Regions from separate parts of the Homo sapiens genome. Here all the other regions are linked to region 1. The links come from fine-mapping of genetic effects on gene expression. A gene starts in region 1. Each other region holds a variant in brackets. All regions are shown on one strand. Distances are between the middles of the regions. Region 1 holds the start of TMBIM6 (transmembrane BAX inhibitor motif containing 6). Region 2 has its middle 20 kb from the start of TUBA1A. Region 3 overlaps TMBIM6 (transmembrane BAX inhibitor motif containing 6). Region 4 overlaps LOC124902929 (a long non-coding RNA gene). Region 5 has its middle 6.5 kb from the start of SPATS2.

The links. PIP is the estimated chance that this variant, and not a neighbour inherited with it, causes the effect.
Region 2: its variant is the best candidate, but not a certain one, in a credible set for the expression of TMBIM6 in whole blood (INTERVAL, PIP 0.68).
Region 3: its variant is the best candidate, but not a certain one, in a credible set for the expression of TMBIM6 in whole blood (TOPMed, PIP 0.62).
Region 4: its variant is the best candidate, but not a certain one, in a credible set for the expression of TMBIM6 in whole blood (INTERVAL, PIP 0.53).
Region 5: its variant is the best candidate, but not a certain one, in a credible set for the expression of TMBIM6 in whole blood (INTERVAL, PIP 0.59).

The regions. Positions count from the first base shown.
Region 1 is chr12:49,739,316-49,744,419 of GRCh38, reverse strand. TMBIM6 (transmembrane BAX inhibitor motif containing 6) reads right to left here and starts at 2,863. Exons shown (of 10, transcript NM_003217.3): 1 at 2,809-2,863. RefSeq lists enhancers at 2,607-2,926, 2,547-3,238, 3,167-3,296.
Region 2 is chr12:49,206,180-49,211,283 of GRCh38, reverse strand. No RefSeq gene overlaps it. Among named protein-coding and RNA genes, the nearest start is that of TUBA1A, 20 kb to the right of the region's middle. The variant G/C (reference allele first, on the strand shown) is at 2,396.
Region 3 is chr12:49,762,801-49,767,904 of GRCh38, reverse strand. It overlaps TMBIM6 (transmembrane BAX inhibitor motif containing 6), which reads right to left. Exons shown (of 10, transcript NM_003217.3): 10 at 2,971-5,032. The coding sequence ends at 5,009. Among named protein-coding and RNA genes, the nearest start is that of TMBIM6, 24 kb to the right of the region's middle. RefSeq lists a silencer at 1,333-1,533. The variant T/C (reference allele first, on the strand shown) is at 3,174.
Region 4 is chr12:49,717,353-49,722,456 of GRCh38, reverse strand. The region is part of intron 2 of LOC124902929 (a long non-coding RNA gene); the gene reads right to left. Among named protein-coding and RNA genes, the nearest start is that of FMNL3, 12 kb to the right of the region's middle. The variant GT/T (reference allele first, on the strand shown) is at 2,395.
Region 5 is chr12:49,358,434-49,363,537 of GRCh38, reverse strand. No RefSeq gene overlaps it. Among named protein-coding and RNA genes, the nearest start is that of SPATS2, 6.5 kb to the left of the region's middle. The variant AG/G (reference allele first, on the strand shown) is at 2,340.

The sequences.
Region 1 (5,104 bases):
AGAAACTCTGGGGGAACAAAACAGAGTGGTAGAAGACATTTCTACCAGATTCTACAACCAGGTCAAAGTAGTAAAGGAAAAAAAATCAGAAGTTAGAGCATCAGAATATTCAATGGTTTCTCTAGAGAAAATTAATACCCTTGGGCAGTTTACGAAATAAAATGAAACTCGTCAGGCCAGCAGTAGTACCTTCTATACTAATACTCCTGACTATATTTATATAAAATTTATAACTTTTAAGGTGCTTTTATATATGTATCACCTTCAATCCTCACACATCAACCCACAAGGAAAGGGAAAGATTAGGCCCATTTTATACATCTTTTTTAAGTTCAAAAAGGCAATGTAATAGTGGCAAGAGGACAGGATTTGGTGTCACAAGTGCTGCCACTTTCTACTATATAACCTAGGAAAAATCATTTTACCTAAGGTTATTTCAGCTTCCTCATCTGTAAGATAACGATGATGATCAATACCTGCTCTACTGAATGCCAATAAGAAAATCTGTGTGAAATCAACGTAAAGTACTAAAACAAACATTAGTATTGATTTGACCAACATTAGAAAGTTAAATAGCAGAGCCAGAACCAGATTTGGGGTCTTCTGACCACTATAGTCTAGTGCTCTTTTTACTATTCCATCCTACAGTAGAAAAATAAGCTTTCATTTATATAAGCTTTCAAAAGTTTCAGCCATAGGTGAAAACAAATCTTTAAAACAAAAAAACCCTCCCAAAACATACATTGATTCCTATGACATTTTTCTGCATTTTCAGCATTTGTATAAAGAGCGCGAACTATATCTATAATCAGGGAAAATAACTTGAAAATGCTAAGTATCTAGATTAATTTTACCTTTTCTTATTCTTCAGGAGAGATGACTCTTTTTCTTTAGGAAAGGATTACACCTGTAATCCTAGCAATTTGGGAGGTCAAGGCGGGCGAATCGCTTGAGGTGTGGAGTTCGAGACCAGGCTGGACAACTTGGCAAAAGCCCGTCTCTACTAAAAATACAAAAATTAGCTGGGCATGGTGGTGCGCGCCTGTCATCTCAGCTGCTTAGGAGGCTGAGGCATGAGAATTGAATGCACCAGGGAGGCGGAGGTTGCAGTGAGCCGAGATTGCACCACTGCACTCCAGCTTGGGTAAGGGAGTGAGACTGTCTCAAAAAAAAAACATAATAATAATAATAAATAAATAAATCGCTTGAGTTCTGGAGTTGGTAAGCCTGGGCAACATGGTGATACCCCATCTCCACAAAAAATACAAAAATTAGCTGGAGCTGGTGACGTCCACCTGTGGTCCTAGCTACTCAGGAGGCTGGGGTGGATCACCTAAGCCAGGAGAGGTCAAGGTTCAAGTGAGCCATGACTGCGCCACTGCACTCTAGCCTGGGCGACAGTGAGACTCTGCCTCAAAAAAAAAAAAAAAAAAAAAGAGGAGGAAGGTACTAAACCATGTTTCCACAACCAGATAAATAACGGAAGAAGCAAACTATGGATCAAAAGTACAGATTGTATTTCTCAAGGGTTCAACTATTCTGTCCCTACTGGAGGAAAGTGGCGGCAGAGAATCTAAATGTCAACATATTCTTTAGGCCAGAACAAAAATATTAGACACAAAGAATAAGAAAACACCAAAGAGTGTAAATACAATAATTACAGAAAAAAGTGTGTATACGCAGGTCATAAGAAATGTGTTTATGCAATTCCGGTATCTTTCCAGAATTCAATTCTTAAACCACACATACAAAAGATAAACTGTAAATAAATATCAATAAGTAACTAGAAAAGTCCATTTGCCATTTATTTACCTTTGACCTTAAAATCCTTGTCTGTTTCAAGCACAGTCAGCCCTTCTACTGGGTTACACATTCACAAGTTGCTAGAACACAGTCTCAAGTTCATAGTGATTTTTGTTGTGGGGGTGGTCAATGAAAGGCTGATGACCCCAAGCAGCCCGGGCTGGCACCGGGTAGTAATTCTACACTCAGTAAATATACAAAGATACCAAAGCCTACTTGTTACCACAGGTCCAGCAAGTAGGCCCAAGATAAAAACTGCCCAACGACGCCCTTGCTGAGCAGACTTAGAAAGACGCCCACAAAACCTCAAGACCAAGCAAAGCAAAGCCACCTCACCTGCCCAAAGGTAACCAATCCGAAAAGAGCGGGGCCGCCCCGTGGGCCTGGAAGGCAGCCCCAGCCCCAGACTCCTCTCACTTCCCGCCTCTGCCGTTGGCTAAGTAACTGAGGAGCCTCGCGTGTCACAGAGGAGTGTGACATCACCCGCCCGCCAGGCCCTACCTCGAGTCTTGGCTCCGGGCCGCTCACCCAGGGTCAGCCCGACCAAAGGACCCGCCCGCAGCCGAACAGCAATCGGATGGGTGGAGTTTCGCGTTCCTTCACCTCGGAAGGACGTGCTCTGAATTCGAACGATCGAAGCTAGGCCAAGGGGCCCTGCGTCTACACTTAGTAGAGGAGAAGGAGCGGGAGAAAGGAAAAGGCGGGCTGAGAAGGGGCCTTCGCCAGCGCTCTGGGGCAGAATAGAGGCCTCGACACCCCCCAAAACCCCCGCAGACTCGCCTCCGCCCCACCCCCGCTTCAGCACTGTTGCGCACGCGCAGCACTAGTTCCCTAGCTTCCCTCCACACCCTGTTTTCCCGAGTCTGGTCTCCGAGCAGGGCCTCGTTCCTTCAGGGTGCCATCTGTCCGCAGAAGGAAGCTACTGCCACTCTTGCTCAGACAGTAACTGCTAACTCCCTTTCCATTTCTCACTCCCAGTTCGCCCAGTACTAGGTTCAGACGTACCTTCCTAACCCGCCTCTCCAAGGCCTACCAGCGCTTCTAACACCGGATGTGCTCTGACTCGCCCACTTCCGCTCCCGATCTTTTACCCGGCGTTCGCCTCTCGAGGGAAACCCCGCCCTGTGGTCCGCTTAAGACCAGTCCTCATTGGCCGTTGGCCGCACTCCTGCCTTTCCATTGGCTGTACGTGCATAAACAGCGGCTGCTTAGTTCAGAGGCCTGAGCTTGTCGATCAAGACTACTGGCCACCAACCGCCTCGAAGCAAAAGGTCTCCGCTTTCTTACCGTAGTAAGCCAGGGTCACGGTGCGCTGCTGCCTCTAGTGGAGAAAGTGAAAATGGGCCGGCCCCGCCCGGGACAGCCCGACGGCTTGTGAAGGGGTAGCGCTGCAGTCTTGGGATTCTGGCTTTAGTCTTGTCATGCAGTGTTAAAGGGGGAAAGCGATTCAGAGAACACATTAAAAAAAAAAAAAAAGCGCCCTCGCAAGGGGCGATTTACTGTGAAACTAGTGGAGCGTAAGCTTCAGAGCACCTTTGAAAACACTTCGATTTCTCTAGAGTATGCGAGAAGGAAATAGCAGGATTCCAGGAGGAAAACCAGAATTTAGGAAACCACTTTCTGGAAAGATAGAACAGTTCTTTTCAGTAAAGAATACAAATATCCAGGGTATGATTCTCAGTAGGCAAACCCAGGTATGCAATTAATAGAAGTTAATTTTCGGCTGGGCGTGGTGGCTTACGTCTGTAATCCCAGCACTTTGGGAGGCTGAGGTGGGCAGATCACTTGAGGCCAGGAGTTTGAGACCAGCCTGGCTAACATGGTAAAACCCCATCTCTATTAAAAATTTAAAAAATTAGCTGGGCGTGGTGGCGTGTGCCTGTAATCCCAACTACTCGGGAGGCTGAGGCAGGAGAATTGCTTGACCCTGGAGGTGAAGGTTGCAGTGAGCCGAGATGGTGCCACTGCACTCCAGCCTGGGAGACAGAGCGAGACCCCGTCTCAAAAAAACCAAAAAAGTTAATTTTCTATAATACAACCTAATTTTTGCTGTAGTGTAGCAGGACAAGCCGCAGACAAAACCCCTCAGACACCGAGTTAAAGCAGGAAGCGGTTTATTCCGCCAGGAGCATCGGCCAAGACTCCTGTCTCAAGAGCTGAGCTCCCTGAGTGAGCAATTCCTGTCCCTTTTAAGGCCTCACAACTCTAAAGGGATCCGCTTGAGAGGGTAGTGATCGATTGAGCAAGCATGCACCGGTAATTAGATCAGAACAGGACAGGGATTTTCACAGTGCTTTTCTATACAATGTCTGTAATCTATAGATAACATAACCGATTAGGTCAGGGGTCGATCTTTAACTACGAGGCCCAGGGTGTGGTGCCTGGCTGTCTGCTTGTGGATTTCATTTCTGCCTTTTAGTTTTTACTACTTCTTTCTTTGGAGGCAGAAATTGGGCATAAGACAATATGAGGGGTGGTCTCCTCCCTTATTCCCCCACTTTGAGACTCTCACTCATTTTATTAGTGGGAGTTCTCACCTTCATCTTCACTACCTATGTCTTCCTGCATGACAGATCGATAGTGATTTATGTAGTACACTTGTGCTGAAGCATTCTGGTGAACTAGAGTAGTGATGAAACCTTTTACCATTTGAATGAGTACAGATAGTAAATAAGGGATCAGTAAGCAGGCTATTACTACTATAATTTTTATTATAAGAGTTTTAAATCCTCCTAGCACTGGGAACCATTTTTAAACATAGCTTCAGGGTCAAATCCGTGTCACACTTGTACAGGCACATGTGCCAGTTTCGTCATGTCTTTAACTATATCTTCGACTACTTGCCTCTGATCATCTATGTGCAGGCAGCAATTGGTAAGGTTAAATTTTCCACAGACTTCTCCTCGAACTAAGATATTTACTCGACGATCCAGTCCAGCCCTGTCGATTCCTAAGGTCACACGCTCCCCTTTTTTTCCAGCGAGGATCAAGGGGATTGGTTATTACTAGCTCTAAGGGGTTACATTGTCCCTTAGTACAGGAAGAGCCATTTTTTCCTTTCTGAAGGTGGACTGGATCCTTTTCATTTTTTATCCAAGTGGCCTAAATGACACAAGACCAGTATCCACATTCATTTTCACACAGTCCTCATTCATGACAAATGTACTTATTTTCGGTCATATAGCCTTTTTCCCAACTAAAAGAGCCACATCCCCTTCCTAACTTATTGCTATTAATGACAGCACAGGCATCAAACTTCAAGGTGACTTGTTTGGGCACCCCTTTTTCTTTTGTTTTGGCT
Region 2 (5,104 bases), 530 kb after region 1:
CCTACATACTTGAGTACCTATCTCTTACAAATATGGACATTTTCTTACATAGCCTCAATGTAATTGTCATACCTAATAAATTAACAATTTCTTGGTCCATATTCAAATTTCCCTGATTACCTCAAAATAAATTATTTTGTAATTGGTTTGTTTGAATTAGTATCCAAATGAGGAGAACACATTATTTTGGTTATGTCTCTTTTATTTTATTTTATTTATTTATTTATTTTCAAAAAGAATCTCACTCTGTCACCCAGGCTGGAGTGCAATGCCGTGATCTTGGCTCACTGCAACTTCTGCCTCCCGGGTTCAAGCTATTCTCCTGCCTCAGCCTCCCGAGCAGCTGGGACTATAGGTGGGCCCCACCACGGCCCAGCTAATTTTTGTATTTTTAGTAGAGACTAGGTTTCACCATGTTGCCCAGGCTGGTCTCAAACTCCTGACCTCAAGTGATTTGCCCACCTTGGCCTCCCAAAGTGCTGGGATTACAGGCGTGAGCCGTCAAGCCCGGCTTCTTGTCTTTTAATCTGAAGCCATTCCTCTTCCATTTTTTTTAAATCCCCATGCCATTGTCCTGTTGAATAAACTGGGTCAGTTGTTGATATAGTTTGGATATTTGTCCCCGCCCAAATCTCATTCTGTGTTCTCACTTATAAGTGGGAGCTAAAAGATGAGAACACATGATCACATAGAGGGGAACAATACACACTGGGGCCTACTGGAGGGTGGAGGGTGGGAGGAGAGAGAGGATCATGAAAAATAACTAATGGATACTAGGCTTAATACCTGGGTGATGAACTAATCTGTACAACAAACCCCCATGACACATGTTTACCTATGTAACAAACCTGGGCATCCTGCACACAAACTCCTGAACTTAAAATAATAAGTTAAAAAATAATAATAATAGCCGTGCATGGTGGCTCACGCCTGTAATCCTAACACTTTGGGAGGCTGAGGCAGGTGGGTCACTTGAGATCAGGAGTTCGAGACCAGCCTGACCAACATGGTGAAACCTCGTCTCTACTAAAAATACAAAAATTAGCCAGGTGTGGTGATGCACATCTGTAATCAGCTACCCAGGAGGCTGAGGCAGGAGAATTGCTTAAACCTAGGAAGCGGAGGTTGCAGTGGGCCAAGATCTTGCCACTACACTCCAGCCTGGGCAACAGAGTGAGTGAGACCCTGTCTCAAATAATTATAAAAATAGGCCGGGCACAGTGGCTCATGCCTGTAATCCCAGCACTTTGGGAGACCGAGGCGGGCGGATCACCTGAGGTCAGGAGTTCGAGACCAGCCTGACCAACATGGAGAAACCCCATCTCTACTAAAAATACAAAATTAGCCAGGTGTGGTGGCACATTCCTGTAGTCCCAGCTATTTGGGAGGCTGAGGCAGGAGAATCGCTTGAACCCAGGAGGCAGAGATTGCAGTGAGCCAGACAGTGTGCCACTGCACTCCAGCCTGAGCAACAAGAGCAAAACTCCGTCTCAAAATAAATAAATAAATAAAAATAATAATGATAAGTAATAATTTAAAAATTAAAAACAAAAATCAAATCTAGGGCCGGGCGTGGTGGCTCATGCCTATAATCCCAGCACTTTGGGAGGCTGAGGTGGGCGGATCACAAGGTCAGGAGTTCAAGACCAGCCTGGCCAGCATGGTGAAACCCCATCTCTACTAAAAATACAAAAGTTAGCCAGGCGCGGTGGCACACGCCTGTAGTCCCAGCTACTCAGGAGGCTGAGGCAGGAGGATTGCTTGAATCCGAGAGGCCGAGGTTACAGTGAGCTGAGATTGTGCCACTGCACTCCAGCCTGGGCGACACAGTAAGACTCTGTCTCAAAAAAAAACAACAACAGAAAAAAACAAAAACAAATCTCATGTTGAATCGTAATTCCCAGTGCCAGAGGTGGGGCTTGGTGGGAGGTGTTTGGATTATGGGGACAGATCCCGGGTGGCTTGGTGCTGTCTTCACAGTAGTGAGTTCTCTTGAGGAGATCTGGTTGTTTAAAGGTGTGTGGCACCTCCCTGCCCTCTTGTTCCTGCTTTCGCCATGTATTGGGGGCTCCCCCTTTGCCTGCCACCATGACTGTAAGCTTTCTCAGGCCTCCCCAGAAGCCGAGCAAAAGTCAGCACCATGCTTCCCATAAAGCCTGCAGAACTGTGAGGCAATTAAACCCCTTTTCTTTATAAATTACCCAGCCTCGGGGGTTTCTTTATAGCAATACAAGAACAGGCTGACACAGTTCTCTTTAAAATGGCCCACATTCGGAATTTGCTCATTTGCTTCTTGGTGGTTTATTTAACTTGCCCCTCTATTCTCCATATTACCTGTAAGAAGGTAGCTCGAAGCCTTCATCAGATCCGGATTCAAGGGTCTATCTCACAGGCC[G/C]TGCCGTGCGCTTCACACTGCATCACACGAGGAGGCACACAGTTTCCGGTTCTCCAGCTGTTAGAGATGCCGAGACTCATTAGCAGATTCAAGGTGTGACGGACTGGTGCCTTCATTGTAAAATGCCTCAACTTGCTTGTAATGGTATCATCCTTTGATGACCTTTACCTGAGTCAATTATTTGCTATTAAGGGGTGCGAAGTGGCAATTTTCGAATTCTGTACTTTTTTCTACATTTATTAGCTAAAATGATTTTGTAAAGAAGTGCTATTTGGTTGCCTGAAACATAGTTAATATGGAAAAGAGAAGATAAAGCTTAATTTCTTCCCTTTAAATTGCCAATTTTCAGAATATAGTGACAAATGAATGTTTTTTGTTTTCTGTCTTTAAAAATCTCATTATGAATTCATGATCTGAAAAATATGATCAGTGTGTCACTTTCAATTGCAGTAATGGTTCTTTTCAATGCGTATAGTGTCTTGTTTGGGGCCAATAATAGCTTCATGTTGGCTCCTGTAGCCTTTTGACAATCCCATTAATTTTTTGGATAACTTCTTTGCTTTCTGGCATAACAAGATGTACCAGGCACATTGTGCACATTTTATGCTTCAGACCAGGAATTAGCCATTTCTCCAAAAACCCCTGATTCATTATCTTCTAGAAGCTCTGAGTTTTTTTTTTTAAAGACCTGATTCTTTTTAGTAGAAAATAGTTTTTTAAAATAAATTTCTTTGTTGTAGAATAGTTTTTGATTTACAGAAAAATTGCAAAGATACATAGAAATTCCATATATCCAGTTTAACCTGTTATTAGTATCTTACATTAGTATGATATATTTTCCCCAAATAATGAGCCAACATTGATATATTATTATTAACTGAAGTCCATACTTTATTCGGATTTCTTTAGTTTTCTTTCTTTTTTTTCTTTTCTTTTTTTTTGTTTTGAGACAGAGTCTCACTGTTGCCCAGGCTGGAGTGCAGTGGCACGATTTCGGCTCACGGCAACTGCCGCCTCCCGGGTTCAAGCGATTCTCCCACCTCAGCCTCCCAAGTAGCTGGGATCACAGGTGTGTGGCACCACATCCAGCTAATTTTTTTTGTATTTTTTTTTTAGTAGAGATGGGGTTTCACCATGTTGGCCAGGCTGGTCTCAAACTCTTGACCTCAAGTGATCTGCCCACCTCATCCTCCCAAAATGTTGGGATTACAGGCGTGAGCTACCATGCCTGCCCAGAATAGTTTTTCGTTGTTGTTCCTTTGGTTTTGTTTTTTTTTTTTTAATTGAGATGGAGTCTCACTCTCACCCAGGCTGGAGTGTAGTGGCGCAATCTTGGCTCACTGCAATCTCCACCTCCCAGGTTCAAGCATTTCTCCTGCCTCAGCCTCTAGAGTACTGGATTACAGGCGCCCACCACCACACCTGGCTAATTTTTGTATTTTTAGTAGAGATGGGGTTTCACCATGTTGATCAGACTTGCTCGAACTCCTGACCTCATGGTCTGCCTGCCTCGGCCTCCCAAAGTGCTGGGATTACAGGTATGAGTTTCTTTCTTTCTTTCTTTTTCTTTCCCTTCCTTCCTTCCTTCTTTCCTTCCTTCCTTCTCTTTCTTTTTTTTTTCTTTTTGACGGAGTCTCGCTCTGCCGCCCAGGCTGGAGTGCAGTGGTGCAATCTCAGCTCACTGCAACCTCTGCCTCCCAGGTTCAAGTGATTCTCCTGCCTCAGCCTCCTGAATAGCTGGGACTACAGGCACGCACCAGCATGCCCAGCTAATTTTTGTATTTTTAGTAGAGACAGGGTTTCACCATGTTGGCCAAGATGGTCTCGATCTCATGACTCGTGATTCATGACCTCGTGATCTGCCCACCTCGGCCTCCCAAAGTGCTAGAATTACCGGCGTGAGCCACCACACCCGGCCTCTCTCTCTTTCTTTTTTTTTTTCTTTCTTTCTTTCTTTTAGCGAGTTGTGACCAACTTTTAAAAAGTGAAATCGAATTTAAAAAATAGAGTGTATTGTGTACAGTAAGAGTAAATATTATTTTGTTATAATATGAATGCAAAGTATACTTTTAACAATAGATGGATGGTCAACAAGTTTGGAAAAATGCTGAACTAGTGGACCATATATGATCTGCTTTACAAAATCACTAGAAAAATCTAAATGTAAGTTTAAATCTATATTTAGCATAAAAAATTATGCCAGAAGGCCTTAATTAGGATTAGAAGGATTAGAATTTAGGCTGCTTGGGTTTGAACTCTGGCTTTATTATTTACTTGGTGACATTTGGCAACTTAATTAAACTTTTTGTGCCTCAATTTTGTCATCTGTAAAATGGGATTAATTATAATATCTATCTCTGAAAGTTGTGGTGAAGAATAAATGAGTTAATACAAATATAATACCCAGAACACAGCCTGGCACATAGTCATAACTTTAAAATGTTAGTTATTATTATAGATGTTCTCAGTTCATTTAGCAATACAAGTCAAGATTTTTAAATCCTATTTTTCTAATAATTACCATTTAAAGTCAGATCGTAAGGCTTCTCACTTGTTGTAACTAAACCAGTCATCTACAGATTTCAATAAAGATCCTTTAGGTAATCATCTCAGAAATGAAAAGCTAACCACAAACACTGTAATGAGAAAACTGTGCTATTCCTGCAACCTGCTTTGTGCCTTTTTTTGTAGGCAATCCGGATATATCCA
Region 3 (5,104 bases), 23 kb before region 1:
CTTCAGTAACTGTTGACTTACCCCCTCCATTTCCTACTAGTTTCCTCCAACTTTCCTAGTTAGCAAAACCTGTTTTTGCAGCTCCTTCCTTGCACTCCCCATGCTGGAGCGTACTCCTGTCTTTCCTCGTGCTGATCCCTTGATCAGAAACATCCACTCCCACTGCCTTTCTTAATCTCTTCACTTGCCTCACTTTGACTCAAACTTTGAGATTTAGACTTAGCTGAGGTGTCATCTACAAAGCACTTTCTCTGACCGACCAGACCAGGCTGTGTCTCCTGCTGTTGTCTCATGGCCCACTATGCTTAACTCCTATTCACATGTAATGTTCACATGTGGCTCTCCAGCACTACTCAGTGGTGAAGGACTCCAAGGCAGGAACTGTCTTCTACATCTTTATCCCCAGCTTAAACAAGACAGATCCCCTCATCTGCTCACCATGCTTAGAAAGAACATATTGTTTCTTGGCTGGGCGTGGTGGCTCATGCCTGTAAGTAATCCAGCACTTTGAGAGGCCGAAGTGGGCAGATCACTTAAGGGCAGATCACTTGAGGTCAGGAGTTCGAGACCAGCCTGAGCAACATGGGGAAACCCCCTTTCTACTAAAAATATGAAAAATTAGCTGGGCATGGTGGCATGCACCTGTAATCTCAGCTACTGGAGAGGCTGAGGCAGGAGAATTGCTTGAACCCAGGAGGTGGAGGTTGCTGTTAGCCAAGATCACGCCATTGCACTCCAGCCTGGGCCAGAGTGAGACTCCATCTCCAAAAAAAAAAAAAAAATACTGTTTCTTCTTTCAACCCAGAGGACCTTCCACTTCTGCCGCCCACTAGGGTCTTCCTTGGTCTAGTTTTGGCCTGCAGGTCTCCTACACATGGAAAGAGCTGCTGTTTGTTATCCTCTTCCATTTAATTGGTAATTGGTGGGCTGGCTGGGGGAAGAAAGACTAAAAAGGCCGCTCACTCTTCTACGTTTCTTTGGTTACAAAGATTTGGGGTGGGGAGATTTTGCTCAAACCCCTTCACAATTTCCCTTTCCACCCTTGGCCAGAGCCATAGCCAGGATGTAGGTCAGGATGGAAAGGATGACTCCAGCCCAGGAGGACTAACCTTAACACTGCTTACATAGGTTAACAGTAAAGGATAGGGGCTCTGGAGATAGTGTGCCTAGATTCTTTCTGGGCACACATCTGCCAGCCCTGGAAGTAACTGACCGTACGTAGTAAATACACCATCTTCTTAAACTACTGGGGATGTTAAGCAATCCATGTAAGGCACTTTGTACAGTGCCTGACCTTGTAAACACTCAAAAGGTGTTGCACCTTGTACTTCTCCCCTAGCAGATAAAATGGGGGCTTTAAAGAGTCTTTAGGACCAGTCTTTTCTCAAAGTCAGCAAGAGAGAAAAGATGCTTAAGGAATATTTCCCAAGCTTAAGGAAAATGGCTATCCTTAGTTGGCACGGGCACATGTGGAGTCCGAACAGGTCAACTGGGAGTAACCTAGATGAACCAGTCAGAATAATGGTCAAATTCTAACAGGAAGGCCTGGGTCTACAATGAATATGACAAGCGGAGAACAAGCATGGTAAAATTGAGCTACTAGGCTCGGCATGGTGGCTTAAGCCTATAATCCCAGCACTTTGGGAGGCTAAGGTGGATCGTTTGAGGAACACGAGTTCAACATAACCTGAGCAACATGGTGAGATCCCACCTCTACAAAAATTAAATCAGCGGGGTGCAGTGGCATGTTCCTGTGGTCCCAGCTACTCGGGAGGCTGAGGTGGATCACTTGAGCTCAGGTGACTGAGGTTGCTGTGAGCCATGATCGCATCACTGCACTACAGCCTGGGTGACAGGGCAAGACCATGACCCTGTCTCCAAAAATCAAAACAAAAACACAAACACAGAATTGAGCAACCTGATTGTAATGCAAGTTCCGATTGATAATCTCATATCTGAACTATGACAAGGACTTTTATTATTTTTTTGAGATGGGAGTCTCTGTCGCCTAGGCTGTAGTGCAGTGGTGCGCTCTCGGCTCACTGCAACCTCTGCCTCCCGGGTACAAGCGATTCTCCTGCCTCAGCCTCCCGAGTAGTTGGCACTGCAGGCGCCCACCACCATGCCGGGCTATTTTTTGTTATTTTTAGTTGAGACGGGGTTTCACCTTATTAGCCAGGCTGGTCTCAAAACTCCTGACCTCAGGTGATCCGCCTGCCTCGACCTCCCAAAGTGCTGGGATTACATGCGTGAGCCACCACGCCTGGCCGACTTTTTTTCTCTGTCACCCGGGCTGGAATGCAGTGGTGCATCTCAGCTCACTGCAACCTTCACCTCTCAGGTTCAAGTAATTCTCCTGCCTCAGCCTCCCAAGTAGCTGGGATTACAAGTGCCTGCCACTTTGCCTAATTTTTTTTTTTTTTTTTTTTTTTTGGTGTATTTAGTAGAGATGGGGTTTCACCATGTTGGCCAGACTGGTCTTGAACTCCTGACCTCGAGATCTGCCCACCTTGGCCTCCCAAAGTGCTGGGATTACAGGCATAAGCCACCATGCCTGGCCAACTTTTACATCTTTATTAACTAATGCACTTAGAATACAGCCGGGCAGCAGTGGGTGAACAAAAATACTTGCAGAATGAGTGGGTATCATTTGCCTTTTTTCCATTATGCATCCTCAAACTCCAAAGCTTGGCTGCACATCTGAACCAACTGCACATATCACCACAAACAACATATAGCAAAGGTGGCAGGGGGTGGAGAGGACTGGAAAAAAAACTGGCTTACATATTTGACAGAGAAAATTCTCAACATTTGTGGCATGCTGGGGCTACAGAGTGGGAGGTCTTTGTCTCTGTTCATACTTATGACACGAACTCAATCGTGTCCCACTCCCAGCCCCCAGTAGCAAACCCTGGCAGTATCACAAGCTCCATGACCAGCTGTACCCTTGAATTTAACACAAACACCAGGAAAGGTTAAGGAATTTTCTTTATTTTTTACAAATTAAGACTATGCAGATTTCATATATTTCTGAATCAAAAACACCTTTGTCTTCACAGTATGAGTTAGAATGCAGCCTGAGCTGAAAATCAAGAAACTAGAAAAGAAAGTGGTAGAGATAACTATATTAAAAATCTGTTAGGTATTTTCTTTAAAAGTAGGTGTTTTTTTTT[T/C]TTTCTTTCTTTTTTTTTTTTAATATCTTGTCATTCTTGGCACTGTTTCTAAAGAAAAACTCCATTATCCCAAGCAAAAAGCACAGAAGGTGGAGTTTGGCTTCAAGAGATGTTAACTCAAAATCTTAGGCCTAGCAGAGAATCACCAAATTTATGGAGAGTTAACAGGGGTTTAACAGGAAGGAAGTGCCTTTAGTAAGTTCTCAAGCCAGAGGCTGGAGGCAGCAGCTAAATCAGAGGACAGCATCCTCAGTGAAAGTGAGCCATTCGGGGTGGCATGTCACTCCAGGAATAAACACAACTTAGAAACAAATGATTTCGTAGGATAGCACAGTGACATGGTGCACTGTGAACCTGAGGCCACTGTGTCAAACTGTGCACTGGTTGTGAATAGGGAGAGCCAAAAATTATGTCCTACTGGTAATGAGCTTTCAATGGCTCGATCCTCTCACACTGAAGCTCTGTAGAGCAGCTCAGAGCCACAACCACTCCCAACATTGACCCTTCTGGGGGTAGCTGTCTGTGGCAGCCCACAGGAAGGAGCTGGAGATCCCCATTAGGACTGTCCACCCACACTTGAAGCCACAAAACTGCAGGGATTGGGGCTCTCACTGGTTTGGTCGCCTAACTCCCGCCTAAAAGGCCACAAATTTCTGGAAAACAGGTAACAGACCAAAAACTAAAGTGCATCAGTAAAATGAACATTTATCTACTGCCCCGAATCTCTGGCTTGACACTACCTACTGGTGTCCAGTTGGAGACAGACTAAAATGCACTGAAGGACTATTAGGATTGCTGCCTCCTAAGTTATCACAGCCTCGCTCTGTTGATGTGAATGAGGAACTGCTTGGTTGTTAAAGGAGATTTTGCTCCCTGCTGCCCCAAACAGGTCCTTATCTAGGTTTGCTCCCCACTGCCCCAAACAGGTCTGGCAGGATTGGTTACAATGATCTCCAGAGGCTCAACCATTCCCCTTCCCTATCCTTGCTTGGGACATTTAATCACAGCCACCTAGTAGAGGCCGCTCAGTAAGGGGATAACAAACTAAAAAAACAAAAACAGGGCAAGTTTAGGGGAACCCTACGATGCTGTACCTTGATACACATAATCAGCCTTTTCAAAAATGCCTGACAAGAATTAGTCTTTCCTTTGTGCTGAAGTCTTCCCACCCATGGATGGAAGCAGGCTGACTCCCTGAGGGTCAGGCAAGGGGTGGGAAAGGGAACACATTACTTTTGTGAAGGCAAAGCAGAAAGGTGTGTTTGCCAGACCAGCATGGGCAGCTCAGAGGGAGCAAAGCATCCACCAGAAGAGGCTCTCCATTTTCTTTGTAGGGCCTGACAGTTGAGATTTGAGGCTGAGTTAACAATGGGACCACTGAACTTCTTTCCAATGGAAAACTCACGGCCCAGTCCCACAGGAACTGTGCGCATACCAAACAACAATGAGGAAGGAAGGGCCGGGTGGCTCTACCAAACAGTTCAGGTCCACTGGGTGAATGAAGCCTGGTGGGAAAGCGGACTCCTGAAGTTGGCGCCCTCTGCTGGTCCCACTTCTCATCGTGGCGGGTCGACTGCCTGAGTAGAGGAAGAGGCTACAGATGGGGTTGACAAAAAAGGGAGTGAGGGGAACCCCAGGAAGATGAAGCCAAACTCCAAACTATATTCTGCTAATCAGTTTTTTGATCAAAAAATTCAAAATAGAGGAAACCACAAAGTACAAAAGCTTTTCTGATGCTTTTCATTATCACAGAACACACCACCTGTAATGTGTGCAAAAAGGAAATGAGGGGTGGAAGGAGAGGAAGTCTAATTGGGAAAGGCTGGATGGTCACTTCATTTCTTCTCTTTCTTCTTATCCTAGAAATGGAGAAAAATCACCCAATTAATTTTTTGACATTTGACATTCAAGCTAAAACTCTTGAGTGAGCA
Region 4 (5,104 bases), 22 kb after region 1:
GTGAAACCATGTCTCTACTAAAAATACAAAAAATTAGCTGGGCGTGGTGGCGGGTGCCTATAGTCCCAGCTACTTGGGAGGCTGAGGCAGGAGAATCGCTTGAACCCAGGAGGCGGAGGTTGCAGTGAGCCGAGAATGCACCACTGCACTCCAGCCTGGCGACACAGCGAGACTCCGTCTCAAAAAAAAATTAATTTATAAAAAAGGTATTCCACATTATATCTCATCAGGGATATACTAATTAAAAGTACAATTAAATACTACTGTGCACCTCTTAGAATGGCCCAAATTCAGAACATTCACAACACCAAATGCTGGTAAACATGTGGAGCAATGGAAACTCTCATCCATTGCTGGTGGGAATGCAAAATAGTACAGATACTTTGGAAGAGAGTTCCGCAATTTCTTAGAAAACTAAGTATACCACAGCCATAAAAAAGAACAAAATCATGTCCTTTGCAGCAACATAGATGCAAGTGGAGGCCATTATCCTAAGTGAACTAACACAGGAACAGAAAACCAAATACTGCATATTCTCATAAGTGTGAACTAAATATTGGGTACTCGTGGACATAAAGATGGCAACAATAGACACTGGGGACTACTAGAGGGGGTGGGAGGGAAGGGGCAAGGGTTGAAAACTATTGGGTACTGATATGGTTGGTGGGAGGGAAGGGGCAAGGGTTGAAAAACTATTGGGGTACTGATATGGTCCCACCCAAATCTCATCTTGAATTGTAATTCCCACAATTCCCATGTGGAAGGAACCTGGTGGGAGGTAGTTGAGTCATGGGGGCAGGTCTTTCCTGTGCTGTTCTCCTGATAGTGAATAAGTATCATTGGATCTGATGGTATTATAAGGGGGAGTTTCCGTGCACAAGCTGTCTCTTTGCCTGCTGCCATCCATGTAAGATGTGACTTGTTCCTCCTTACCTTCCGCCATGATTGTGAGGCTTCCCCAGCCACGTGGAACTGTAAGTCCATTAAACCTCTTTCATGAATTGCCCAGTCTTGGATATGTCTTTATCAGCAGTGTGAAAACAGACTAATACAGGTACTATGCTCACTACCTGGGTGATGGGATCAATTGTAACCCAAACCTTAGCATCATGCAATATACTCATGTAACAAACCTGCACATGTACCCTCTGAATCTAAAATAAAAGTTAAAATTATTGTAAAAAAGAAAATTAAACGTCCTCTTACTGTACAATCCAGCAATCATGCTCCTTGGTATTTATCCAAAGGAGTTGAAAACTTATGTCCATATAAACATCTGCACATGGATGTTTCCAGGAGCTTTATTCATAATTACCAAAACTTGGAAGCAACCAAGATGTCCTTCAGTAGATGAATGGATAAATTGTGGTACACTCAGACAATGAAATACTATTCAGTGCCATAAAGAAATGAGCCATCAAGCCATGAAAAGGCACAGGAGTCATTTAAATGCATATGTCAACCTAAATAACAAACAGGAGAGGCTTCCCAAAAGAAAATGATATTTATTTGGGAATAGAGCATTGCAATGAGAATACATGTGCCATAGTAACCTATATGCATATTCAGGAAGGTAAAGGAAGACAAAGGTTTTCAAAGGAAAAAATGAGGATTACATAATTATTTTGAAATAATTATCCTTGGCTACAAAGATCAATAACAAGGCCGACACCAGTCTGAGGTTGGACAAGCAATTGCTGGGCAGATGTCTTTGCAGCAGTATTTTTTTTGTGAAAGGTTGTGGTGGCCTTTGTGCAAAACTGTGGCTTTTGTAGAATCTTTTTTGTTATCAGTTATACATGCGTGAGAACCCTCTCTTTAAGGTCTTCCTCAGCTCTATTTCTAAGGGTTTTCTTCACAGTGTTTTCTGGTTATGAGATGCTAGATGGTGTTCAAGATGTTTTAAATGTATTAACTCATTTAATCTTTGCAATCACCCTGGGAAGTAGGAACAATGACTACATTACAGATGACGAAAAGGCTCATTCAGTTTGTCCAAGGTCACAGAGCTTGAATTTGAGCTCTGGTGACTGTTCTGGAGCCCATGCTCTTAATCATTATGCTATGCTGCCTCTTGTGGCACAATTGGCATGTATTGGTAAGCATAACTTTGCAAAGTTTTGTGGTTTTTAACAAATAAATAAAACCTTTAAAGGAAAATGGCAGTTGGACTTGACTTTAAAGGCTGTGGGGGGAGTAAGAAGGTAGAGGGGAGGAAGGTAGGAAAATAGCCACAGATCTGCTTTCCCAAAGTTAGGAGGTGGTGTGGCAGAGTGAGAGATAAAAAGCAGATTAAATCCCTCAGCCCAGGGCAAGGATGGAGAGGAGAACCAGTGGAAGCAATTTGGGAATGACCTCGAGGTCCTCGTCTAAATTTTTTTTTTTTTTGTTTTT[GT/T]TTTTTGAGACGGAGTCTCGCTCTGTCGCCCAGGCTGGAGTGCAGTGGCATGATCTCGGCTCAGAGCAACCTCCGTCTCCCGGGTTAAAGCAATTCTCCTGCCTCAGCCTCCCAAGTAGCTGGGACTACAGGCGTGCACCACCATGCCTGGCTAATTTTTTTTTTTTTTTAGTAGAGACAGGGTTTCACCATGTTGGCTAGGCTGCTCTTGAACTCCTGACTTCAGGTGATCTGCCCACCTCAGCCTCCCAAAGTGCTGGGATTATAGGCATGACCCACTGTGCTTGGCCTCTTCCTTTCTTTCTTTCCCTTCTTTTTCTTTCTCTCTCTCTCTTTCCTTCCTTCCCTCCCTCCCCTTTCTTTTTCTTTCTTTCTCTTTCTTTCTCTCTCTTTCTCTCACTCCTTCTTTCCCTCCCTTCTTTCTCTCTCTCCTTTCTTTCTCTTTCTTTCTCTCTCTCTTTCTCACTCCTTCCTTCCCTCCCTTCTTTCTCTCTCTCTTCTTTCTCTTTCTCTCTTTCTCTCTCCTTCCTTCCCTCCCTCCCTTCTTTCTCTCTCTCTCTCTCTCTCTCGCTCTGCCACCAGGCTGGAGTGCAGTGGCACAATCATGGCTCACTGCAGACCTGACCTCCTGGGCTCAAGCGATCCTCCCATGTCAGCCTCCTGAGTACCTGGGACTACAGGTGCATGCCACTGTACCTGGCTAATTTCTTTTGTAGAGAAAGGGTCTTGCTATGTTGCCCAGGCTGTTCTTGAACTTCTGGACTCAAGTGATCCTCCAGCCTTGGCCCCGCAAAGTGTTGGGATTACATGTGTGAACCATTGCCCCCTGCCAATATCTCCCACCTTTCCTTGTCTACTTTTATAACCCTCCTTCTGATCCCTCCTTTTCATTTCAAATGCACTGATCTTGTTCTGGCCAATGGTTATGAGAAAAAGCAGCTAACAGAAATGAAACACACTGAAATCCAAACCATCTCTCTCTCTCACACACACACACACACACACGCACATCTTTTTTGAGACAGAATCTCACTCTGTTGCCCAGGCTAGAGTGCCGTAGTGTGATGACAGCTCACTGCAGGCTTGACCTCCCAAGCTCAAGTGATCCTCCTACCTCACCCTCCCAAGTAGCTGGGACTATAGATATGTTCTACTGGTTAATTTGTTATACTTTTTGTAGAGACCAAGTATTGCCATGTTGCCCAGGATGGTCTCAAACTCTTGGGCTCAAGCAATCTGCCCGCCTCAGCCTCCCATCCTCCCAGAGTGCTGGGATTACAGACGTGAGCCACTGTGCCTGGCCCTATATTTTTAAAATTTATTTTATTTTCTTCTTCTTCTTCTTCTTTTTTTTTTTTGAGACAGAGTCTCGCTCTGTCGCCCAGGCTGGAGTGCAGTGGCTCAGTCTCGGCTCACTGCAAGCTCCGCCTCCCAGGTTCACACCATTGTCTTGCCTCAGCCTCCCAAGTAGCTGGGACTACAGGAGCCCACTACCACGCTTGGCTAATTTTTTGTATTTTTATTAGAGACAGGGTTTCACCGTGTTAGCCAGGATGGTCTCGATCTCCTGACCTCGTGATCCGCCCACCTCGGTCTCCCAAAGTGCTGGGATTACAGGCGTGAGCCACCACACCCGGCCTTTATTTTATTCTTAATTTTTGAAAAATCGCTATCATTTTTTGAGACTGGGTCTCACTTTGTTGCCCAGGCTAGAGTGAAGTGGTGCAATCATGGCTCCCTGCAGTCTTGAACTTCTGGTCTCAAGTGATTCTCCCACTTCAGCCTCCCAAGTAGCTGGGACTACAGGTGTGTGCCATGGACCCGGCTAACTTTATTTTTAATTTTTTTGTAGAGATGGGATCCCACTGTTGCCCAGGCTGGTCCTCAACTCCTGGACTTAAGCAACTCAAGCAACTCAAGCAATTCTCCAGCCTTGGCCTCCCAAAGTGTCAAGATTATAGGCATGAGCCACTATGCCTGGCCGTTGTTTTTTTTTTTTTTAACTTATTTTTAATTGAGCTGTTTGTTTTTCCTTTTCTTTTTCTTTTCTTTTTTTTGCAGAGGCTGCTTAACACCTGTTGCTATTGAGTTGGGTGTTTGTTTTCTTTTTCTTTTTTTTTTGAGATGGAGTCTCACTCTGTCACCTAGGTTGGAGTGCATTGGTGCAATCTCGGCTCACTGCAACCTCCACTTCCCAGGTTCAAGTGATTCTCCTGCCTCAGTCTCCTGAGTAGTTGGGATTACAGGCACGCACCACCACTCCCAGCTAATTTTTGAATTTTTTAGTAGAGACGGGGTTTCATCATGTTGGCCAGGCTAGTCTCGAACTCCTGACCTCAAGTGATTCACCTGCCTTAGCCTCCCAAAGTGGTGGGATTACAGGCGTAAGCCATTGCGCCCAGCCAGGTGTTGAGAGTTCATTATATACTCTGGATACAAATCCTTTGTCAGATAGGTGATTTGCAATATTTCCTCCCAGTCCTAGCTTGTGATTTGTTTTTAGTTCTCCTAACAGTAGTTTTCAAAGAGCATTAATTTTTAATTCTGATAGAGTATAATATATCAATTGCTCTTTTATGGATTGTGCTTCTGGAATCATAGCTAAGACATTTTGCCTAAACCAAGTTGCAGAAAAGATCAAATCGTAGCCTGAAGGAGCTGACTAAGGGCAAGAATCAGAGACTAAGCCAGCCACAGGGGCAGGTACTG
Region 5 (5,104 bases), 380 kb after region 1:
GTTGCCCAGGCTGGAGTTCAATGGCATGATCTCAGCTCACCGCAACCTCCACCTCCTGGGTTCGAGCGATTCTCCTGCCTCAGCCTCCTGAGCAGCTAGGATTACAGGCATGTGCCACCCCGCCCGGCTAATTTTGTATTTTCGGTAGAGACAGGGTTTCTCCATGTTGGTCAGGCTGGTCTCGAACTCCTGACCTCAGGTGATCCACCTGTCTCAGCCTCCCAAAGTGCTGGGATTACAGGCATGAGCCACCGCGCCCGGCATACTGTGTATGTTTTACTTCACAATAAAACATTTATCGTCACCTGCCTTGAAATAATTGCAAATTGTTCAAAGTGCATGTATAAATTATTTTGGAGGAAAATAAATGCTGCAATAAATGCAAAATATAATATTTGTGACCTACGCTGAAGAAAACACAAAAATAACCAAATTTCTGAAATGTTTAGCATAGATGTTAAGGGTTAAAAAAGAAAAAGATCATTTTCAAATGAGATCCATTAGCCTCTGTTCAGCCTTACGAAATTAATTTATCCCATGTTACTTAATGATCAAGTGCCAGAACTAGAATTAGAGAGAAATCATGACATAAGCTTCACCTTGGCAGATATATTCTGCAGGTATTAACCTGACCTAATTTGATATGTTTTCAAATGGATCCTTGACTTGATATTTTGTATCTTAAATAATTGATTGCCAGATTCCATGTTTTTATTAGGAAGAAAAAGAGGCCAACTAGAGCCTGAGAGGCACAAAAATTTAACTTATTATCTTGGAGACTTGATAACCAATGACTGTAATTAAGAAACATAATGTTTTAAAGTTTCCATTGACTGAAGCTGCAAGTGACAACAGGCACAAAAACCAGTAGAGAACAGCTCATAAGATTGTACTTTTCCTTTTGCCTATACTAACCCTAGTACCTAAGAATATTCATGTTAGCAGTCCAAAGTGTGCCTCAGAAAATTCGTTTCATGGGATACTAAATAGATGTTATCTGAGAAAACTATTCCATGTCCAATTAAGTTTGGGAAGCACAGGTTAAAATCAAGTTAAACTGGTGTATTTACTTCCCAGAATATTTAATATGATACCATGCTTTGTTCATATTGAAGCGAGCAGGCTATGTAGTGTGCAGCTTTCCCCAAGGAAGCTCTTCCCACTCCCATCCCCACCCCCAAGACTTTTTTGCAGAATTAATGTGTCTTTGAACATCCATTGTATAAAGTTCAATTAAAATGGTTTAATTAGGTCAGATTTCCCATTTTACAGATAACAAAACTGAGGCCCAAAAACAAGGCTAACATACCCAAATTTTCACTTGTGTATCAGATATTTAAAGCTGGGAAAGGCCTTAAACTATCAAAGGTTGAAGTGTTACATCACAAAATTATTGGCAATGCTGGACCCAAAACTCAGATCTGAAAAATTCAGTTCAATGTGAGCCTTGCAGGTTCATTAAGACTTGACTTTGATATTAAGTGAATTTGTCCTATGTGTAAGATAGTAACTAATATTGCTGTACTCTAAGTTCTTTTATTAAGTTTTTAAATTATCTTTCATTTATAGATTCTGTCACCACTTTAAAAAAATAGTATGCTTCACTTCTGTCAAATGTTTTATACTTCATAAAGCACTCTGTACACATTGTCTCATTTGATTGTCTGAACATTGTGTGGTGCAGGCATCATTGTCCTCATGTAACAAATGAGGAAACTGAAGCTCAAAATTTTTCAATAATTTACCTAGGTTGCACATTTAATAAATGTCCTGCTATTTACATTAGGAGAAGACACAGTCACTTGCCCTCAAGCAGCTTTGGTATAGTTAAGAAGAGAAGACTTGCAAACATGAGACAGAGAACAATTTATATGGCAACATGCAAGAAACTTATTGATAGAACAGTACAAACTAGATGGGAATACAGAAGGAATTCAAAGGGCAAAGATTACTAGAGGTGGAATTAATCAGCAAAGGCATCATTTAGGGATAAACCTTAAGCTAGGTCATAAAAGAAGTGTAAAGATTTGTATTAGCAAGGCTAGGCATGGTGGTTAATGCCTGTAATCCCAGCACTTTGGGAGGCTGAGGCCGGTGGCTCACCTGAGGTCAGGAGTTCGAGACCAGCCTGGCCAATATGATGAAATCCTGTCTCTACAAAAAATACAAATATATTAGCCTGGCGTGGTGGCGGGCGCCTATAATCCCAGCTACTCGTGAGGCTGAGGCACAAGAATCACTTGAACCCAGGAGGCGGAGGTTGCAATGAGCCAAGATCACACCACTGCACTCCAGCCTGGGCAAGAGCGAAACTCCATCTCAAAAAAAAAAAAAAAAAA[AG/G]ATTTAGCAGAGAGGAAAAATAATTATAGGAAAGAAGAAGAACATCAACCAAAGGCAGAAATATCAAAACAAACACATTGATGGAGAAGAATTAGAGCCTGAAGGGAGATGGGTCTGAAATGATCAGTCATCTTGGCTGTGCAAGAAAAGTCAACTGCTAAGACGAAGTAAGTTTGCAGGCACTGAATATCAAATTTACTGAATATTAAACGTACACTCTCTCCTGTGGTTCATGGGAGGGAAAGGGAGGAAAAAGCAAGAGAAACCACGTCTAAAGTGGGTAAGGATATGGAAGGAGGGGTGGGGGAGTAAAACAAGCCTCAGTGGCCCTCAGATCTGTGACTGGGAAACACCTGAACCAAAGACGTTTTATGTCCCACAACCCCTTCCCATTCTTTTCTTTTTTTTTTGAGACAGAGTCTCGCACTGTCACCCAGGCTGGAGTGCAGTGGCGCGATCTCAGCTCACGGCAACCTCCACCTCCCGGGTTCAAGCGATTCTCCTGCCTCAGCCTCCCAAGTAGCTGGGACTACAGGTGCGCCACCATGCCCAGCTAATTTTTTTGAAGTTTTAGTAGAGACGGGGTTTCACATGTTGGCCAGGATGGTCTCAATCTCTTGACCTCGTGATCCACCTGCCTTGGCCTCCCAAAGTGCTGGGATTACAGGCGTTAGTCACCGGCGCCAAGCCCCATTCCTTTTTTTTTTTTTAAGAGACAGGGTTCTCACTCTGTTGCCCAGGTTGGAGTGCAGTGATGGGATCATTGCTCACTGCAGCCTCCAGCTCCCAGGCTCAACTGGTCCTCCCATTGCAGCCTTCCCAGTGGCTTGGACTACAGGTGTGAGCCACCAGGCCTGGCTAATTTTTTTTTTTTTATAGAGATGGGGTCTCCCCATGTTGCCCAGGCCGGTCTCAAACTCAAGCAATCTTCCCCACTGGGTTCAAGTGATCCTCCTGCCTTAGCCTCTCAAAAGTGCTAGGATTATAGGCATCAGCCACTATGCCTGGCCTTTTTTTTCCCCACTCTTGAGACAGATTAATAAATTTCTTATTTATTTATTTGAGGCAGGGGCTTGCTCTGTTGCCTAGGTTGGAGTACAGTGGCAGAATCATAACTCACTGTAGCCTCAAACTCCCGGGCTCAAGTGATCCCCCCGCCTCCGCCCATCATCACACCCAGCTCCCGTTCCTTTTCTGGTACTAATTCACCTGAAATGTGCCTGAGCCATTGATTCTAGGAAAAATGCCCTTTTAGGTGTTGCTTGCAAAGCCAGGCTCACATGCTGACTCAGTCACTGCCCAGCAGATGTTCCCCACAACATTTCTCAACCCAGAATTGGGACTGAGGTCTGGCACAGAATGGGTTAAAAGATTCCCTTCTGGGCTGGGAGTGGTGGCCTGTAATCCCAACACTTTGGGAGGGCAAGGCGAGCAGATCACCTGAGGTTGGGAGTTCGAGACCAGCCTGACCAAAATGGAGAAACCCCCGTCTCTACTAAAAATACAAAATTAGCTGGGTGTGGTGGTACATGCCTGTAATCCCAGCTACTCAGGAGGCTGAGGCAGGAGAATCGCTTGAACCCGGGAGGTGGAGATTGTGGTGAGCTGACATGGTGCCATTGCACTCCAGCCTGGGCAACAAGAGCGAAACTCCGTCTCAAAAAAAAAAAAAAAAGATTCCCTTCCAAGTTTCCCATACAGGGCACTGTTTTACTGCTTTGTTCTGTTGAAACTTGTCAGTAACGTTTAAACCCAGAAAGTCCAAGATCCTTGCTTAGAGTCATAATAGTTTGCAAATAACCAGATGGACTATGGAAAGGGTGAATGAGAGGTGGGGAAAAAGAAGAATAAGAAAGAAAAGAGAGAACAAATTATTGAAATGAAGTATCTTTAGCTGGAACCCTACATAAATTTTTTACTTTTATTGCTCAAAACTCATCTTAGCAAAAACAAAACAAAACAAAACAAAACAGTTGAACAACTTTTAATCCCTTGAGGCGACTAACAGAAATACTGCAGGGAACATGAAGCAAAAGAAAAACATTTTAAATCACCTTCTCAGGGTGGGAACTTCAAAAGCCAAAGCACTGGCATGAGATGTGCGTTCAAAGTTCTAACATGAAATAGACAGCTCTAGATTCCCCTAGGAGATTAAATGACAACTGAAAAGCATGCTTCAGTTGGAGCTTGCTTTGAATAACACCCCAAATCCAACTTCACAGTTGCTTGCTCCTTCTCAGCAAAAGGAGAGGACTGAACTCTGGTAATGAACCTGCTATGGAGGTGCCACTACCACATTTTTTTTTAAGTGAAGGGGACAGCCGAGGGACATATTTTACCATGACAGCCTTGTAGCGCCATCTGCAGTTCCTAGCTAAGACTACAACAAACCACACGTCTCCAGGCTTGTTAGGACCACCCCACTGTTCAAGAGAAAAGAAAACTAAGACATAGAGTACTAAAGTCAGTGAGTCCTCAAAAGCCTCCTGGGTCCTAGAGTAGATGCAAACATAGCTCTAAGACACAGTGCCTAGGAAAAGATCTAAGGGCCTCAGTTGACTATAAACTCAATGAGTCACACTTACATAGCAACCAAAAAAAGCTAGTAAATTTTTAGGCTGCTGGATTTAAAGGATGATATATTGTTCAGACCTTGAGAACGTAACAGCCCCACAGTACCCCGTTCTGTCTGAACACGTCTCAGAATTGCATTTAGTTCTGGGCACCACAATTTAAGAGCAATATTGACAAGAGCTATAAAAAA